3 separate regions of the Homo sapiens genome follow, and regions 1 and 2 are each linked to region 3. Evidence: fine-mapped expression QTL. A gene starts in region 3. Each other region holds a variant in brackets. All regions are shown on one strand. Distances are from middle to middle. Region 1 has its middle 39 kb from the start of ARL5A. Region 2 overlaps ARL5A (ARF like GTPase 5A). Region 3 holds the start of NEB (nebulin).

The links. PIP is the estimated chance that this variant, and not a neighbour inherited with it, causes the effect.
Region 1: its variant is fine-mapped to the expression of NEB in whole blood (TOPMed, PIP above 0.99). The same link has a PIP of 0.9 or more in tibial nerve.
Region 2: its variant is fine-mapped to the expression of NEB in whole blood (TOPMed, PIP 0.96).

Annotation. Positions count from the first base shown.
Region 1 is chr2:151,786,223-151,793,221 of GRCh38, reverse strand. No RefSeq gene overlaps it. Among named protein-coding and RNA genes, the nearest start is that of ARL5A, 39 kb to the left of the region's middle. The variant A/T (reference allele first, on the strand shown) is at 3,476.
Region 2 is chr2:151,819,357-151,826,355 of GRCh38, reverse strand. The region is part of intron 1 of ARL5A (ARF like GTPase 5A); the gene reads left to right. Among named protein-coding and RNA genes, the nearest start is that of ARL5A, 5.6 kb to the left of the region's middle. RefSeq lists an enhancer at 2,474-2,533. The variant AG/G (reference allele first, on the strand shown) is at 3,633.
Region 3 is chr2:151,730,563-151,737,561 of GRCh38, reverse strand. It overlaps NEB (nebulin), which reads left to right and starts at 3,086. Exons shown (of 182, transcript NM_001164508.2): 1 at 3,086-3,164; 2 at 3,767-3,850; 3 at 4,377-4,441. The coding sequence starts at 4,406.

The DNA.
Region 1 (6,999 bases), 56 kb before region 3:
ATGATATACTGTAAACATCATTTACATATAAAACATTTTAATGGATATATTGTGTTTGCTGTTTGGACATGACATAATTTATTTAACCAGTCTAATGTTGATGTACATTGTTGTTCCTTATTTCTTACCATTGCAGTAATTTTACTGTAGTTAACATTTGGATTTATTTTTCATAGAATGAATTCTCACAAGTCCAATCGCTGTGTCAAAGCATATGGCCTTTTAAAAGGCTTTGGTAGCCTGTTGCCTAATTGTCTTCCGAAAAGATTCCCCACATCCTGGTCAATTCTTCAGCATATACACGGCCATCTCTATATTAAGACACTTTATATTAAGATTTGTAAACCTGTTGACTACTGTCACAGGCCACCACCACTCTGGGCATCTTCAGGTCATGCTACATGTTCACCAGTCCTTCCAGCAGTGGGCAGTGCAAAGCTTCCCTCCGCCCACAAGGTTTCTGTGATCTTTAGCCTTTATTGTGCAGTTTACTTGTTAACCGGCTTATAATGTATTCAGCCTATGCTAATCATTGACTCCTTTTGGGAAGGGTAGAAGGTAAAAGATGTATACAATCTCTCAGCTGACCTTTTTTTAATGTTGGGGAAGAATAATGAACAACTTTTATTATCTACCATAGACGGCCAGTCTTCTGCTTCTAGGATGCTCTCCCACCAATGTGTCCATCTATGCTGTCAGCCCTAAATGCCAGTCCTGTGTAGGAAGTCCTGTGTTCATTCAGAAAAGTCACCCAGTGTCCATCCATTTATGTCCATCATATTAAAAACAGTTGAGTTATATGATAAAACATGCTACCATTAAATATTTTAACAGATTTAAATAATATGAGGAAATTATTAATGGTTGTGACATGTTAAACAGGATAAACAATTTTTTTATAATATAAACTTTTACATCTATCATCTGAATTATGCGAGAACAAAAAACATAGAAAAAAGATAGGAAAGTACCTTGGGAAGCTGAGGCCGGAGGACTGCTTGAGCCCAGGAACTCAAGATCAGCCTGGGCAACATGGCGAAACCCTGTCTCTACAAAATGTTTTTTAAATCTAGCCAGACATGGTGACAGGTACCTTATAGTCCCAGCTGCTCAGGAGGCTAAGGTGAGAGCATCACTTGAGCCCAGGAGTTCAAGGCTGCGGCGAGCTGTGTTTGCACTCCAGCCTAGGTGTCAGAGTGAGACTATGTCTTTAAAAAAAAAAAAAAGAAGAAAGAAATGTATTATAACATTAGGAGTTGTAGGCGGCAACATTACAACCAGTATTTTTCTGATTACGATTTTGTATGTTACAGATATTCTATATTGAGCGCATTATACCAATAATCAGAAAACATTGCTGAATCATTTTGTCTTTAAAGAATCATCTAATAGGGATGGGAAGGAATACAAAAGTTGTATTAAGTAAATGGGATGAAGCTCTCAGTTCAGAGATCAAGATGATTGGTAAGTGGAATACTATGCAGCCATAAAAAGGAACAAAATAATATCCTTTGCAATGTGGCTGGAGGTTGTTATCCTAAGCGAATTAACATAGAAACAGAAAACCAAATACCACATGTTCTGACTTATAAGTGGGAGCTAAACATTGGGTACTCATGAACATAAAGATGGCAGCAATATTGGGGACTATTAGAGGGGTAAGGGAAAGGGGGCCAAAGGTTGAAAAGCTTTATTGTACTATGCTCAGTGCCTCGGTGATGGGATCATTTATGCCCCATACCTCAGCTTCATGCAATACACTCAGGTAACAACCTGCACATAAATCCCCTGAAATTAAAATAAAAGTTGAAATTAAAAAACAACAACAACAACAACAACAAAAGGTGATTGGTAAAAATTCACTGATGCAATGCCATTTGCAACCTTCAGTGCAAGTCTGATTTTGACAGAGTTCTTACCAATTATTGCAGATGTAAAGAGATTACCTTTTTAGCTTATGCCTTGATATTATGTGTTTTGCTTTAGATGGTTTGGTGGTTGGTTGGTTTGTGGGATAGGTTCTTTTTGGCTGTGTAGTAATGACATCAAATGCCCGCAGAGAATTAGTTGTAAATGGTAATGGTCTTTTTAAATGGTTTAACTGCTGTACTCAAAATACTCTTCAACCTGATCTGGTGTCCTAAAAGTTTAGTACTTCTAATAAGATCTAACATGTGGTTGCATTTGTTATAAATGCCAAAGTTATATTTAAAAACACCCAAAGGGGCTGGGTGTGGTGGCTCACACCTGTAATGTCAGCACTTTGGGAGGCCCAGGCAGGAGGAGAACCTGAGCCCAAGAGTTTGAGACCAGCCTGGGCAACATAGTGAGACCCGCATCTCTACAAAAAACAAACAAAAAAAATAGGCATGGTGGCATGTGCCTGTTGTCTCAGCTACTTGGGAGGCTGAGGTGGGAAGATCACTTGATCTTGGGAGGTTGAGGCTACAGTGAGCCATGATTGCAACATGCAACACTGCATTCCAGCCCAGGGGACCATGAGACTATCTCAAACAAACAAACAAACAGACAAACAAAAACCCACTCCAAATGTAAAGTGAATAGTTCACATCAGGTGTACTGGAGGCTATATGAAGAGAGACAGTGATAGCAAGAGTCAACAGTCCTTATAGACTAAAGTGAGGTGGCAGTAGTAGTAGGCATTGGGGAACCACTGAAGGTTTGCTTGTTTTATTTTGTTTTAAGACAGGATCTTGCTGTGTTTCCCAGGCTGGAGTGCAGTAGCATGATCATGGCTCTTTGCATCCTTGACCTTCTGGGCTCAAGTGATCATCACACCTCAGCCTCCCAAGTAGCTGGGACTACAGGCACATACCACCACGCCTGGCTAATTTTTTTTTTTTTTTCTTAGAGATGTGGTCTTGCTATGTTGCCCAAGATGGTCTCAAACTCTTAGACTCAAATGATCCTCTCACCTGGGCCTCCGAAAGTGCTGGGATTACAGGCATGAGTCACTGCACCTGGCCTGGGAATAACAGTTTAAGGCCAGCCTCTTAAAATGAAAGTTATTGTGGCAACTTCTAAAAGATGGGTTGAAAAGAGAGGAAACTGGGGATAACATCATAAATAGATTATTATATTATCCCTGGTGAAAGAAAATGAAGGCCTGAAACAAGGCAGAGAAGGCAAAGATAAACTTGATATCTAATGGAATATGGGTAAGTAACCATATAAGTTATCAGCCAAAATGGGACATGCTTAAGAGTCAAAGAAGGCACTATTAATAATTACTCCAGCATATCAAAATACCACATTATACCCCATAAATACATACAATTTGTCAACTAAAAATAATTTTTTTTTTAATTCATGAAAAAGGGGGATAAGAAGAAGAAAAACATTCCTGCAGGACTGGTCTGGGCAGAAGAGGAGTTGTGGTAACTAGATATGAGGAGAAAGAGAGGAAGGAGGCACAGAGCAGTTGGAGCTTGCTGCCTGGAAGAATGACGGTATG[A/T]TAAAGAGATGGGATGATGTGAAATAATTCACATTGTTAATTATGAAGTGTGTTTTGAATCACCTCAGTGTTACCCAGAAACGACACTCGGTTATCATGTTCAGATAGGGGACAATGTGTTTTTGCAGTGATAGCAGTGGAGGGGAAGGGTTGTCAGCTTAAGGGGCAGTTGGTCATTCTGTCATCAAATGAATTAGTAGCAAGACTTGACCAGCATTTGTGAATAATGAAGCTTTTCTTGCTGACAAACTGCTGATGTTTACATTGGGCCATTATAATAGGCAATTTAATGTCATTAATGACCTTTATATAAAAAATAACTCGTGAATGAATGAATGTAGTGAACATTAAGTACTGCTAATAGAAAAAAAAAGGGCAAGGCTTCTTTGCCAACTTGGCAGAATGATCATCAGTATTTCTGCCTGTTCTTTGCCTCAGGTACACACATATTTATTTATTTATTTATTTATTTATTTATTTATTTATTTATTTATTTTAGTTTTAGAGACAAGGTCTGACTGTGTTGCCCAGGCTGGACTTCAACTCCTCAGTACAAGTGATCCTCCTGCCTGAGCCTCCTGAATAGCTGGGACTACAGGCCTGCACCACCATACCCTGCTCTAGTTACACAAATCTTAAAATGATGCTGTTATGTTAATTCAATTAAGAAAGTAAACTAGTTCTATGATCCAAGCACATAGTTGTGACTCAATTCATGTTGTTGTTTTTAATCCTGAAATGATATTGTAAAATAAGAGCTTTGCCTTAAAGTTTTTGTTACTCAGTTTTTACATTTGAGGTAAGAAGGCAAGTGGCAGGGAAGAATGATTAGCAATAAAGCTTTTTAAAAGTTCTTCAGAAACAGTAGACAATTGGTTGAGTCAAATTGACCTATAATGACTATTCCCAGGAATTTCCTAGTTCTTATTCCTTTGGAAGGAATTGTAACTACCTTATGCCATGTAAAGAATGCTGCTATTTTACGTTTATTACAAAGATGTGCCTACAGATAAGAATCAAACTGGAGAACTTTAAAAATGTTTTAACTTTACCTGATCTTTTTCTTAGAAAGCTAACTGTAAGTAGGATATGGTGCCAAGAAAAATCATCAGCCTGATACTGTGAAAAAAAGACACCCTATTAATATGCCCACAACATTATCAGCAAGCTAAGTAACATCCCTGGACCTTAGTTTCATTATATTTTTAACTAAGTATGTATCAGAGCCCTTAACACAAGCCCAATATATTTTGGAACCTCAATAAATAGTGGTTTTGCTGATTGTCTTTTTAACAATTTCTAAAATATTGAATACTGGTTATTATAATTAAATGTATTCTAAACATCTATTCTTTCTGTCTCATGCCTTGATCTAGCCTGTTCCTTCCACCTAGAATGCCTTTTCCTTCCTTTTCTCACATAGCAATCTTTGACATATCCTTGAAGACTGAGCTCTCCCATCAGCCTGGGAGGCCTGGCCTGATCTGGAAGACGGTTCAGCACGTCTTTCTCTGTTGCCATAGTGCGGGATTTTTGTCTATTTTCAGCAGGTCGTTCCAGACTGCAAGCCTCTGGAGGGCAGTGACTCGATCCCATTCAGCTCCATATCCCCACTACCAGCATGGCATGCATTGGGGGTGTCCATACATATACAGAACAGAAACTTTCAGGGTTTGGCCAATTTTACTTTTCCTTAGCATGTATTATCATAAAGTGATGTAAGTACTATATGCCTGGATTTGTCTTATTACTACATCTATTTGTTAGTAAAAGGAGGTTACATGTTGCCTTAGTGGTTTCTTTGCACTTAAATATTTTTTAAATTATTTGGTTCTTGGCTGGGAACTTAGTCCAATATGTCTGCTAAAGTATTTCCCATTTCTTGCCACCTCTACAATAGTGCCATAATTTCCAAGTTGATTTGACATGTATCATCTTTATTCTCACAATCCTGAGAGGTATATAGAGCAAGAATTAAGTTCTACATTTAACAAAAGAGAAAACACACAGAGATTGATTGGCTCTAGGTTATATAGCTAACTGGTAACAAACCAATTTTTATTAAAATTAATTTTAAAAATTTAACTTTTAAAGTTTATCTTAAATGATGAACATCGCTTGTGTTTTTCTTGCATGTAGTTTCTATTTTAGGAGAATTTGCCTAGGGGTAGTTCTGAAACCAAGTAAAAGTAATTGGATTATGAAGGTCTTCTACCTTAAACTAGCTGTCAACTTTAAACTCAACCATTTAATAATTAAATTTAAACTTTACATTTGTTTAATTTAGTAATGTTTCTTCACATTAATCAATTTTTCAAATTAGGAAAGTAATAAATGACAAAAATGGAAGAACATTTATTAAAGATAGAAAAAATGTTTAATGGTCTTGTACATATAAATGGTGTTAATGTTTTGGCTTCATTTTAATAAAGCTTTTATTAAATAGTGTCAGAGAGAGTGGTGGTTATTTTGTAAAGAAAATGTAAAATCTTTTTTCAAATTATAAAATTACTTGCTTATTTTCATACTTGGTGAGAGCCAAATTAAAATTATTTATAGTTTAATGGGCTACTTTTCTAATATTTGCTAGATAAGAACTTCACTTGAATAAAATATGTCACATAAATTTATACAACATTTTTCACAGTGAATGTGGTTCTCAAAAATTTTATTTCTAAGTTGGAACAGAAAAAGATAAGAAATATAAATATGTATAATGAATATAAATTGATTTCTTAATACTTTCTACTCTGACTGAATATCAAAATTAATTAATATGCTCTTTGAATCCTAGAAAAAAAGCTAATAGTTTAAGTATTAGTAATGTACTAAAATTAAAATGACCTTAAAAAGGGATTCAGGTATTTCATGCTAAATTTTCCTTTGATTTTAAGTTACCAACTGATAGAGTACAAAAGTGATAACTTTCTGAATATTGTTGCTGTAAACAAGCATATATTCAGTTCCTCCTGTGTGAAAAGAAGCCAAATGTAATGATTGTGGTCTTATTCAGCGACAAAGTGCTGATGATATTATTTCCATAGACAGTACAATTCTGCAGCTGGCTCTGTCAGTCTAGGAAGAGAGCTCACTAAATAAAGACCATGAAGTAATTTGCAATTCAGGGGCAGCATTTTAAAGGAAATGAGCTGAAAGTCTACTCATTAAAGTCAAAGGAAACCTTGTGCTTTTTTTTCTTTTCAATATATTTGTTTCTTCAAAGTGTAGCTATACCAGCTTGCATAGCCCATATTGGGAATTCAGAAAAAGGTGACACTGTTAAAAATTTTACTTTACTTTTTGGAGAAGTTCCTTGGAGATAGATCTTTTGGGGTAAAAAAATTATTTGGGTGTCTGGAATTTAAACCTACGTTGCTCGTTTCATTTCAGACATATAAGAAATGAGTTTCAGAGGCATTTGTTAGTTGTCTGTTTCCTCGCAGTGTAAGACTGTCAAGCATATAAATGCAGGAGCCCCAGTGGCCTGAAAGCAGTCAAGAGTTCCTACCCTCCTTGGCTCAATG
Region 2 (6,999 bases), 89 kb before region 3:
GTATTTTGTGGTAATTTTTGACGGGACATTTATGGCAGTTTGGCGGAAATTAATAGAGAAATTAATGAAGTTAAGTTCTAGAAAATTAGATATGAATATTGTGAAAGTGTGAATAAATTATTTATTTTCTGCTAAACAGTGTGGCTGTCTTATCAATAGGGTCACTTTTCCGAATATCCACCATTTAATCTAATGCCAGATATTTGTTGGGTTTTGTTTTTGTTTTTGTTTTTTTGAGATGGAGTCTTGCTCTGTCACCAGGCTGGAGTGCAGTGGTGTGATCTTGGCCCACTGCAACCTGTGCCTCCTGGGTTCAAGCGATTCTCCTGCCTCAGCCTCCCGAGTGGCTGGACTACAGGTGCGTGCCACCACACCCAGCTAATTTTTGTATTTTTTGTAGAGATGGGGTTTCACCACGTTGGCCAGAATGGTCACCATCTCTTGACTTCGTGATCCACCCGCCTTGGGCTCCCAAAGTGCTGGGATTACAGGCCTGAGCCATGGTGCCCAGCAGGGTTGTTTTTTTTTTTTTCTGTATAGGACATATATAAGTTAGATATGTGTTGGATGCTCTTGTTTTACCTTCAGTGGATTCAGAATGCAATCTTACTTTCTTTTCATAGAAACTCTTGGAAAGTATGTTTCGGGAGATTACAGAATTTGCCATCTGATGAAACTTAAACTATGCAGTATCTCCTGTTTCTGAAACCCCTCGAGAACAGCTTTTTCAGTTAAAGCTCAGATTGAGTGCACAGTGAAAGCTATTTGTATACCGCTCGAACTAGAAAAACCAGAGGTCACATTTAGTTGATACTGAGATTCAGTAGAGTACAAACTTTATCCTAGATGCTGTCATTTAAATCATTTTATTTTATTTTATTTTATGTTTTAACAATCTTTTGAAGTAGTTATTTCCCCTGAAAAGGGAAAACTGAGGCTTAAGTGGAATGATTTTTTTTCCCCAGGCCATGCAACTGGTATATGCCAGAGCCAGGCAAGTTAAAACCCTGAAGGAATCTCTTAAAGAAGAGATTGACATCATTTTTCCCTCCCTCCTCCTCCCCCCATTAACTTTTTCAGTTGCTAATCTCTAAGTTGTCTTTAGAACTTCGAAAAGTTGCCATTAGTAACTTTTTTTTATAGAAGAGCTTGTGATCAGTGGTTTACTTGTTCTCAATAAACAAATATTTTAACACCTATTTAGTCCAGGAAGTGTTCTACATGGTGGGATAAGGGAACAAAACAGACAAATTCCACTGCCTTTATGGAGCTTTCATGTAGTGTTGGGAGACAGGAAATTAACTCACTTTGTCTCTACAAGTAAAATAATAGTGGTTAACACTTGTGCAAGGTTCACACAGGTTGTTTGATTTAATATTCACTTAGTTGATTTACTCTTTACAACAACCCTACAAGGTAGATATTATTCCCCTTATTTTACAGGGGTACGGAAACAGGTAACTTGCTTTAAGCACTATAGGTAAAAGTGATAGACCTGGATTTTAACCACGATTACGTAGTGCCGGAGTTATTTCTCCTACGCACACACACCTGGATTTTAACAAGATTATCTAGTGCCAGAGTTAGTTCTACACACACATGCACGCACGCACATTTGCACACAACTTCGTGTAAGAAGGACTTTGTATAAGAAGGACTCAGATAAAAAGAACTGACTGATGTGAACTATAAAAGAAGTTGTGGAATTTCCTCATTAATAGCCTTGTATTGCTCTCTTGGTTGGTTGCTAGAAAAGGAATTATAAGTATGAATGGGTGCAGGAGAAGCTGCCTGTGCTTCAGGAACCTGATGCTGAGGAAGCCACCTCTGTTTCTGGCTTATTATTGTTGTTATTATTATTATTATTATTATTATTAGGGAGTTTAAATGTGTAGAGAAGAGTACATATGGAAGCTGAGTAGCCAAGGGGTAGACTGTGTCTTAGCTTCTAATACAGATGCTCCTCAATTTGTGATAGTTGATAATTTGTGATAGATAGATAATTGAAAATACAGTAAGTAAAAAATGAGTTTAATATGCCAGACTTACTGAAAACCATGGCTTTAGCCTAGCTTGCTTTATACGTGCTCAGAACATTTATGTTAGTTTACAGGTTGGCAAAATCTAACCCAAAGCCTATTTTATAATAAAGGTTGAATATCTCGTGTAATTTATTGAATACTGTACTGAAAGTGAAAAACAGAATCTTTGCATGGGTACTCGAAGTATGGTTTCTACTGAATGTGTGTTGCTTTTACAACATCACAAGTCAGAGACCATTTGTAAACCCTTTTTGCATGCTCTGTGGAAGTGGAGCTAGGTCCTTTAAACGTTTTTCTTTTGCCACTGGGCAAAATGTTAAGTTTTGTCAGTAGGCTGCACTGGAGAGGCATTGTAGGAGGAAAGGGTGTTTGTACTTAGTTATAGTGTGCTTTCTTGACGGGCTCTGCTTGTAGCATGAACACCGTCTCCAAGGCCTGGCTCTTGTACTGCATAGTGGTCAGCAGCAGCCAACAGCTTCCCCTAGTACCCGTCTTAGTTGGTTTCATAATGGAAGGTCTCCAGTGAAATACCTCTCAATAAACAGTTTTCCTCAGCACCGAAGAGGGAGGATTTTTGGGCAGGTTCCACTGGCACCTCACCACAGCTACTTCTCTGCCATTCAGTGAGCCACTATCTGTGCCCTCCAACGAGATCTGCATCTTAAGTCTGGAGGGAGGGGGAGGACCTTTATCTCAACCCTAGGGATAGTGAGTGCTTCTTAAATTTGACATTCCCATAATCTTTTAGCCAATCTCTCATTACTCCAGTCCCCTGTAATATTTTTTTGATGTTGAACTTTCCAAGTTCAAATTATTGTGTGATTTCTGCCTCCTGATTGGATCTCTAATTTTGCCATGTGTAATCATTGCTTTTTTTTTTCAGCAACCTCATAGTGCAAAAGAAAATTTGGTTATTCCCCTGAAACTTAATTTACCATTACTGTAATAGCAAGTTTATTTTCAAACTTTCTTTTTATTGTTAAGACTTTTAAGTTTTAAAAATTGAACTTTTAATACAAAACGACTTAAGCAGATATCTCTCTCCTAACCTTTATATTTTCCAGATCTGATTTATTTATTCATGAAAAATATTAAGCTCATGCTTTATTCCAGGAGCTGTCCTATGGACTAAGAGAACTATAGTGAATATGACAAATGGAATTTTTTGCTCTGAGAGACATAGAATTAATAGGGCTTAGTGATAGTTCAGATATGAGGTAAAAATGATGAATCAAGAGGACTCTCCATTTATTTGCCCTGGTGTTTTTGTGTTTTCTGATGTTGTATGATTCACAGAGATAGTAATTCTCTACAATAACAATTATTATTATGCTTAATTTATTGACTGATGAGTTGGGGGAATATATATTAACTTTTAAAAACTGGCAATGAATGGAACTGGTAGACTGCCTGTGTCAAAAGGAAATGAAGGAAAAGGGAAACAAGAAGCAATTTTCATGACAAAACAGTAAAGTATTGATTGGTATGTTAAAGCCTAATTGGTAACTCACAGTTCCATCAAAGCATTAGAACAGTGCAGTTGTTGTGGCTTATTTGAGTAAATACAGGAATGCTGTGACATAGTCTAAA[AG/G]AAAAATCATACTAAGCAGTAAACTTCTGATGATTCTTGTGCATCAAAGAGTTGGAATGGCTGAAAGTTTTATTGCATTTGTCCACAATAACATTCTTGTAGTAGGCATATTGGGATTCTATGAAGTCTTTATTTCGAAGTGCATTATAGCACTTTTTGGCTACAAATTTACATTTTGTATAGATGCTTTTCCATCTTGCTAATGAAAGGAACAGGCTGTGGTGGTGAGAGTAAGGATGTTCAGAGGAAATTGATCTACTATTAAAAACTTTGTGACTAATCTGACCCTATTATTGAGATGACACGTTTGTCTTTGAGCCCATTGCACAGTTTGGTCTTAATTTTATAGTTCTCATTGTGACCCACATGCTATGTCTTAGATTTAGGAAGCTATTAAAAATGGTCATTGGTGGCCGGGACGCAGTGGCTCATGCCTGTAATCCCAGCACTTTGGGAGGCCAAGGCAGATGGATCACCTGAGGTCAGGAGTTCAAGACCAGCTTGGCCAACATGGCAAAACCCCTATCTCTACTAAAAATACAAAAATTAGGCCAGGCACAGTAAACTTCTGATGATTCACGTGCAGGTGGTTCACACCTGTAATCCCAGCACTTTGGCAGGCCGAGGCAGGTGGATCATGAGGTCAGGAGTTCAAGACCAGCCTGGCCAATATGGTGAAATCCTGTCTCTACTAAAAATACAAAAATTAGCTGGGCGTGGTGGTGCGCACCTGTAGTTCCAGCTACTCGGGAGGCTGAGGCAGGAGAATCCCTTGAACCTGGGAGGCAGAGGTTGCAGTGAGCCGAGATCATGCCATTGCACTCCAGCCTGGGCGACAGGGCGAGACTCCATCTCTAAATAAATAAATATAAATAAATTAAAAAATTAGCTGGGCATACGGCGAGACTCCGTCTCAAAAAAAAAAAAAAAAAAGAAAAAAAAAAAAAGAAAGCCGGGCATGGTAGTGCCTGCCTGTAGTCCCAGCTGCTTGAGAGGCTGAGGCAGGAGGAGAATCGTTTGAACCTGGGAGGTAGAGGTTTCATTGAGCCAAGCTCACACCACTGCACTCTAGCCTGGGCAACAGCGAGACTGCGTCTCAAAAAAGTCATTGGTGCTTTATTGTGAAAATACAAAAAAACTCAAATAGAGCTACGTCTTGGGAGGAAGCAACTAGAACTTTGTAATGAATGTAGTTTGTAGGTGTTTGGGTGGAGTAAGGAGGTAAAGATCCTCTGGATCATGGATTCTTCATTGGAATGGCCCTCCAGAGATCTCAGACCACATGACTACATGTGGTTTTTTTGGATATTTTCCAGGTTCTGCTTATGTTTGATTGGAGTTTCTTTCCTCCTTTTTGTTTTTGAAGTATTTTAACCATTTGGTAAGAATATGATATGTTCAAATATATTAGTTTGGTTTCCCTTGATTGACTTTAGAAATCTGCTTAGGTCTTAAGAGTTTGGGGGCATGGTTGCATATTTATGCATTTGTAAGTATATAGGAATTCATTGAATTTGTAAAATAGGTAGGCAGAAGAGTAAGATTGTAGTGTGGAGAATGGCATGAGCAAAGTTAAATGATTGGAAAGTTTATGACATGTTCTAGAGACTGAGTAGAGCAGCTTTTCTAAGTTTTAGTACGTAGGTCAAGAAGAGTTAGGGGAAGATTTGGGCTAAGGCTTAGCTAGCTTTGTCACACTCATCCTTTTTCATCATGTTTATCTAATGATCTTACCTGGATTTAGTTATTCACTTTCAGGTGCAGACAGAAGGTTATGGGTCCTCCAAAGCTTCAGACCTTGGCTAATTTCTCTCCTCTTGTTCATAGCCATTTTACCTTTCATCTTTCCTTCTACCCTAACAATAACCTAACCTTTCACCTGCTAGGACTTCCGGACATTCTTAACCTTGTAGGGCAGGACTGGATTTCTTTCCCGGCCCAAATTCCATGGCTAGCCACTTCATTTCTTTCTTATCACTGTCTCCGACACGCTTTTCTCTATTAACATTTTCCACCATGCCAGACATATGGATTCTGTTTTTTTTTTTTTTTTTTTTTTTTTGGAGACAGGATCTCACTCTGTCGCCCAGGCTGGAGTGCAGTGACACAATCTTGGCTCACTGCAACCTCTGACTCCCAGGTTCAACTGATTCTCATGCCTCAGCCTCCCAAGTAGCTGGGACCACAAGTGTGTGCCACCACACCCAGCTAATTTTTGAATTTTTAGTAGAGACGGGGTTTCGCCATGTTGGCCAAGCTGGTTTTGGACTCCTGACCTCAAGTGATCCACCCGCCTCAGCCCCCCAAAGTGCTGGGATTACAGGCGTGAGCCACTGTGCCTGGCCCAGACATGTGGATTCCTACCCTGTATCATCTACTATACCTTCTCTCTCCAGTGTGCCTTCTTTATTTCTAGGCACTGTTAAAGAAAGATTTAAAGCAGTTTAAATCCTAATCCACCACAGGATAGGTTATCTAATTTCAGCTTATTGATACTCTAGTTCATTCCATACAGTGGTTGTAAAAGATGATGCATCTTGAAACTGTTAACCTTTTCCTTTCCTCAGTAGGCAACTAAGTTGTGTTATAAGATGAAATCCTGGAATGAGTAATTTCTGCCATCTGCTTTATCTTAGACTTGTCTGTGTGTTATAGCACATGGTTTTGTTCACAGCAGTTTTACCTTGGTGATCATGTTCAGCTAGTGGCCAGGTATGATAAAGAATTTTACCTCTGCCTCCCAGGTTCAAGCAATTCGTCTACCTTAGCCTCCCAAGTAGCTGGGACTATAGGCTCACGCCACCATGCCAGGCTAATTTTTTTGTATTTTTAGTAGAGATGGGGTTTCACCATCTTGGCCAGGCTGGTCTTGAACTCCTGACTTTGTGATCCACCTGCCTCGGCCTCCCAAAGTGCTGGGATTACAGGTGTGAGCCACCATGCCTGGCCTAAGAGTCTTTTTTTTTTTTTCAGTAGTTTTTGCCTAGCTAGTTTTTCCTAACAGAACTGTTAGAAAAGCACCAGGTTTGGAATTAGGACATAGTAACCAAGTCCTAAGGACATGGCTGAAGTAAGGAGACCACTTAAAAAAATACCTGTACTAAAGCCAGATGAGGTTTTACTTTAAAGCTATCATTTTAGGAGGCTATATAGTTTTTCCACTGGTATGTCCTACTATTATTCAATCTATTCTTTGAAACTCAGAAGTTCTTTGGAAACAAATTTTTAAATAATTCTTCATATTTCACTTAACAAAAAAAAAATGGCACTCATTTTAGATACCTTTTACCTTATGACCAAGATGATACGAGGTGGCTCATCTCCCACTTTAAAGTCAAGTTCATCTTCAGAGTTTAAAAGATTTGC
Region 3 (6,999 bases):
CACCTAACTGCCCTGCTTTGGTTTGTAGCCAGTTGTACAAGCTTCTAGTCAGATGCCTGCGTACTCATAAATTCTTAGACTAACTATTGTCTGATTTTAGAAGCTTCAAGATATTTGGTATTTCAGTTAAATACAGAATAAAGCGTGAAGCTTCCAATATAATGTAAAAAATGATAATAGTAAAAATAATAATAGCTAACATTTACTGAACACTTACCATGTGCAAGGCATATAATAAGAACCTACCAATAAATCAGGGTGCCAATGTACTGTCGTTCCACAGAAGAGGTCATAGATAGGCCAGGAAAATAAAGCTGTTCTTTCATCTCTAGAGGGCATCATTCCAGATTAGAATCTGCAGAATTTAGTAAGGAGGTGGCAGTGTTTTTCTCTAGTGTGACTAGGAGGTAAATATAAGCTGCTTGCTGGTTCACTCACCCCTGTGTAACCATGGTAGGAATATAACCAGCTCTCCTGTGAGTCTCTTACTTCTGATGGCTTTGCAAATTATTAGGGCAACCTGCAGCAGGCCAGTTTAGCAGGGGCTTTGGGGCTTTCTTTTAGGAGGAATTTATCCCAAGAGATCTAAGCCAGGGTAATTTCATGTGAACTCACTCTTGCCCCACCCCCCACCCTAACTTTTTAGATGCACACTTCATTATGAATGGAGTTTGAGGTTCTGCTCATCTGTAGCACTTCTATTTACTATCATAGTGGTTTCAAAAGTAATGTATAAAGAGTGTCTTAGTCCATTTGGTCTGCTATAACAGAAATAATATAAGCTGGATGGCTTATAAACAGAAATTTACTTCTCATAGTTCTAGAGGCTGGATGTCTAAGATCAGGGTGCTGGCATGGTTGGGTTCTAGTGAGGACTTTCTTTCAGGTTGTGGCTGGCCATCATCCCCCTGTAACTTCACATGGCAGAGAGAGTGCCAGGCAGCTCTCTGGGGCCTCTTTCATAAGTGTACTAATCCCATTCGTGAGGGCTCCACCCTTATGACCCAATCACTTTCCACACATCGGGGGGTAGGACTTCAACATATAAATTTTGGGGGGACACATTCAGCTCAGATAGTAATGATTTTTCAGTCTAATAATCCCTAAGGATATTGAGATGTGTATACATAGGAACCCTCATTCTCTGTTAGTGAAACATAAAATAGTGTAAGGATTTTGACTGGCAACTTGACAATATCTATCAATTTTCAAAATGTGCATATATCTTCTGCCTCAGTATTTCTATTTCTAGAAATTTACCTTACAGATACATTTCATATAAGTATACAAAGGTAATGTACAGGGATGCTTACTGTGTGTTTTGTTTCGCATTGTTTTGCTTTATTTTGTAATAGCAAAAACCTCGAAACAACCTAGATGTCCATTAATAATGATTAAACTATTATACTCTATCCAATCAATAGAATTATTTGTGGAAATTAGAGTAGGATATGTTTATGTGATGTTTCATAAAAATGTCTATTGCATATTAAGTATATCGATTTATGTCAATATCTATATTGAAAATATCTGAAACTTAAAAATGACTAAGAAGGTCAATGCTCATTTTTTACTTTATATAATTTTGTACTCTATGTTTTTAAAGTATGGGCCTGTATTATTTTTTAATTCAACAACACATTTTAAAGCATGTAATGACTAGTAAGTCACAATTCTAGTTTGCAGCTACCAAGTGAGTGATCTCATATTACATAAATATCCTTTGGTCATAAGACCTGTGAGAACATACAAGATGAACAGGTATAATCAGTTAAGATGATAAAATTCTGTTAGATTTTATTTACTACCATGTGAATCATGGAGGGGGAAAAGGTACATGTATTTGAAATATGAGATTACTTTCTCAAACTCCTGGCCTCAGACAATCTGCCCGCCTCGGCCTCCCAAAGTGTTGGGATTACAGGCGTGAGCCACCACGCCCAGCGAGATTACTTTCTAATGTTTAACTTAAAAAAGAAAAAATATTACAATATGTTTAATCTCAAATCCATATCAAGATATAGGTGACTCACAGGGTTTTGCCTGAATACAGGAGCAACCCAGAGAAAGAGCAGTTCTCTGTCACATAAGAGCCTGTGATTTCTGTCGCTGTGTGTAAGGACAGACAGACAGACAGATAGAATTAGATTTTAAATTAGAAAAAATACTTCAGGAGCAAAGAAAGTGCAAGAAAGACATCAGGCAAGTTTTAAGAAAATGGTTAGATAATTTTTATGAAGGAAATGTCTTACGTTCGGATTTGCCAAATAGGGCATTATTTTCTCCTGATAAGTTACTGATTTCCATGTTATCTGCTCTTGCTGTTCAGAAATTGAGCCTGTTTGTGTCCGCATTCACACGTTGCTTCTGGGAGCCAGGAGTCATCTGAGTTAATAGAAAAATCACTAACTCGGTTACATATGAGAGAGGTTCTGTATTCCTAGCAGCTTGCCTTATCTAAGGAGGGAGAAGGTGCTAAATAGGATTTTGGTATACCCTCTTGGTTTAGTAACAGAAAAATGATGGGGTCTAATCTTTCTAATTACACCCTGTGGATATCTTATTTAGTGCCATTGTCAAATATTTTCACCTTTAACTTCACTCATCACATTTTTAAAAATTGCTTTTGTCAACTTGATGTTTACTGGGTCTTATTCCTCAGTTTCTTTCACACTAGCACCAGTAACTTACCTGTAGCTCACCTGGTGAACCTTACCAGAGTGAGTACATTTACCACCATGACTGGACAAATGACATGAAGAAAGCAGTCACGGAAGGGTTAAAGCCTCTCAAAGTCATGCTTATTTTCTACTAAATTCTTTTGCATGAATATGACATTGAATGGGGCCTCAGTAAATGGGAAATTCAACCTAAAATTGAACTGCACAGGCTGGAAGTTAGGTAAAATTTGATTCCATTTGAATTGTTCTAAGCAAGCAATTTGTTACCCTTTATCCTTTAGTGGAATTGATGAACAGGTGGTTTTCAGAAGATCACTTGGTAAATTTAGCTTCTGAAATTTGAGCAACTCAAGATCTGATTGGTTGCTCTTGCCACATGATAATTCGGAGCCCAGGCATCACGCTGGCTTTTGCCTGGGGTTCTCAGGAGGGGAGAGTTGGGAGAGGCTTTGCTGCTGAGGAAATTTATTTGGTAGATTGAAGGTAAGGCCAGTTTATGACTTTTTCTGTAATACTCTTTCAGGAGATGCTCCACAACTTCCCTCGAAGTATTTTTCAAAGGTTTGGGCCATAACTGAGGAAATTAGTGGTAGAAATATGGCTAGGAGAGTTTAACCCCATTGCCCTACTAAGGCCCTACTAATATCTGCTATGTACCGTGTGTGATTAGAGTCAAGTCCTTTGCTAACCAATTTATTGCTTGACTGAATTGGCTCTCTTGTCTAACATTTTTTTGCCTTTGATATTTTTCTCTAAATATATTAGTGTGAAAAAGAAGATACGCTGCTCTACGTTCCTATATTTATCCTGTTCTACTGGGCTTCATTTGCCTGAGGAGTGGCAGTTTCGCTAGCTTAACAAAACCAGCCACTGCAGGGTATTGGTTTACATGGCAAACATCTTTGGATGAAGGGACAGCTGTTCCAACTCATCATCCACTTCATATCAAGAGTCTTACTCTCTGGCGTCAAACTGTAGAGGCCTTGAGAGATCCTTTCGCTGTTTTCTGCATTAGAAGCTTAGGCTAAGGACTGACAATCCTATATGTACCTCAATCAATGCTTTACAACTTTGTTATTTTTCAGGTTTGAACGAGAGCTACAGAAACGAAAGAAAAAGTCTGTATAAGCCAATGGTGTTCGGGAAGAAAATAACCCCATTGCCTTGAGGTTTCTTTTTTTCTTTTAAAATTTATTGACAGATGTATTTTTATGGGTTCCAATTTGAAGCCTAAGATATATTGCAAACAGTGGATCAGGGCAGTATGGAAAACTAAGTCAGCCCTCTTAGAATTTTGGTGCTGGGGGATAAATTTCAGCTTCTTCTGAAACCCAAGCTGACCTTTCACTAAAATTTTTGCTGGAAAATGTCTTTTCTCTAAGTGTTTGGAAGTTTAAATTCTCTGTTCCCTGAGTCCAAACTCTCTCACTTCCTTACCTCAATTTCGTTTTACAATTTTAACTAAACTGATTATGTAGAAGTAGCAATTCCCAACACTGAAGGAATAAAGAGAAAGAAATTTGAAGCTTCTGCTGTTTATACTTGTATTTTAAATGTCTTCTCTCCTTTAGCCTGCAACAATATATGAATTTGTACAATAGTTTAGCTTCAAATTCTATTTTTATAATGTCATAAGATAATTTCTGTGCTGGGAATAGACTCTAATATGTTTTCATTTGTATGGAATATGAAAAGTTTGTAGGTGCCACTACTACTCTGGAAAAATGGCAGATGACGAAGACTATGAGGAGGTGGTGGAGGTAAGATTTAAAAAAAAAACACTGACAGCAAACTATTTTATGTAGTGACAATCAAAGCTGTGTAGGTGAATTAATCATTCGAAAAATACATTGTCTATTATAACTTCACAAAGAGTCATCATTTAAAGCATAAGAAAGGAATATTTTATGTTCAGTTTCACTATAATTATGTGGGATTTAGAATTGACAGGAAATATCACTGTTTCCCACTTTTGCTTTTCTTTAAGCTCTCAAAAAACCAAGTTGGAGTAAAGGCAGGTTTTAATTCGTCTTCTAAAACTGCTTTCTTCCCCACTTCCCAACCCCGATGTTCAAAGGGACAGAGACGAAGAGAAAGTTCTGAAAATGGAACTCTGTCTCTTAGTATCTGTATAGCAATAGAAGAAAAGATCTACTCCTTATTCTTTGCTTCAACTAGCTAATCATCTATAGGGTAACATGGGTTAGATATTCAGAATAATCATATGTATGAAATTATATGCAGATGTGAGACTTTATACATAATACATACACATGTGCACAGACACACACATACAAGCAAATATAAATAAAGGCATGAAGGTCACAGCGATTGTTGGAGCCACACCTTCCTACCAACTTCATTATATTTACCCAAGTCAACAAGACTAGCTTTTGCTTTTGAATTTTGAATAAGAACAAAGACTATAGTGGGTATCTTGAAAATTTTCCTTCCAATTATTAGTGGACATCTAACACATTTTACAAAGCTGTTAATCATTTATTTTATATTTATTTTACATCCTTTTGTTTTTATCATCTTACGGTTTTTCCTCACCGGCTCTTGCCTTTAGCTTCACATTCTAGAAATAAAATCTAAAGGCTTGGAACTATAATGCACATAAATACAGTGCCATGAATCTGAATGTGCTTAATAATTACCAATTAATGATGATGATCTAAACACATGAAAATCTCCAAATGCCTAAGGCACTTGGAGGCAGTTTTGAAAATCTGTGCTTTTTAATAAGACTGAAATTAACTGTAAGAGCTACCCAGAACCAAATTTTAGGTGGCAGTGCCAAAATTTCTCTTTGGAAAATTATTTTAGTGACCAGTCTATATTTAGATGAAGAAAATTTTATTTATTCTACAAATAAAATAGCTTTTATTACTGAAGGATATGAGGGAAAAAATAGAATGAATCTCGTACAATGTAACACTCAGCCTCTCTGGCTTAAATGCTGATACCACATCTTTCATGCTGATATTATCACTAGTGTGCATTTTACTTATGTACCTAAGGGTCAGAAATATCACTGTCAAACACTAATACAATTATAAATTAAATTGTCTTCCCTATGATAATAATGCCAGTAACAGTTTTTACTCTCCAACTTAAATATCCCTTGTCTTTCTTAAAATAATTGTGTACCTTTGCCACTGGAAATTGTCCTTAGTGCTAGACTTGATTGATTCAACTAGATGTCATAAAAAAGGAGGTGGCTATTTTTAGACATCCCATCCCTACCATTTTGTTCCCATTACAGCATCTGTGTCTGACCAGCAGGTGATAAACGAATAGACTGCCTGCCAGAAAGTATTGAACTGAGATCTCTTTGACCTCAAAAAAGATCATGAGCATAAGAGGGTGGTGCATTCGAAAAAATGGCCAGGGAAGATTTTAGAAAACAGAGAGGAACTAGCTTTAAAAATATGCAGAAAACAGAGAAGAACTGGCTTTAAAAATATATCTCCTTGGGATCTTGGACATCTGAAATAAAGTTTTACTGTTCTCTCTACTCTAACTTAAACTTGAAAAGAAAGAGAGAGAAGCAAGGATGCACTATCTAATTAGTGGCACAGCTCTAAAAAAAGAGTGAGATTTGGCATACAAGTTAATGCCAACCATTTAAATAATGTTGCCTCTTTTATAAGCGTATTTCTAAGATGGATTTACCAATGGTGAGAGCCCAGCAAAGGTAAAATTGAATGGTTTCCAAGGAGCTGCTTTTAAACTTGGATGCTGAGAAAATCCAAAATAGTTGTGAATCTTCCATTTTATTTTAATATTTCTTCTGAAGCCACTGATGTTTTGTGTGACTGGAGGAATGACTCTATGTGGCGTCAGCATCAAACAATATTTTCTAGTGTCCAAATGATATTTCTCATGTGCTGAAAAGTCACAACTGTAAAAAAGCAAATCTCTGTCCTGTCAGTGCTTGTGATTTTTGTTGCTATGTGTAACGACATACAGGCAGAATTAGATTTTAAATTAAAACAATAGCTCAAGAGTAAAGAAAGCACAAGAATGAGGAACATTAGGCAAGTTCTAGACGATTGTTAACGCAGGTGAAATAGCACAGGCGGCCTACTGACAATGGTTAAGTAATTTGATGACACTTCACTGAAAAGAATGCAGGCCATTGAGGGAAATTTTGCATCTTAATGTTTTCCCTTCCCTTGAGTGCTGTATGTTTTGGTGTTAAAGATAAGAAAAAGGAAGCATAAAGTGTTTTACATCCTTTTTTTTTTTTTTTTTTTTTCACTAAGAAATGAGCCAAGTGTTTCATCTTTATCCCTTTCCTCATGTGCTTGGC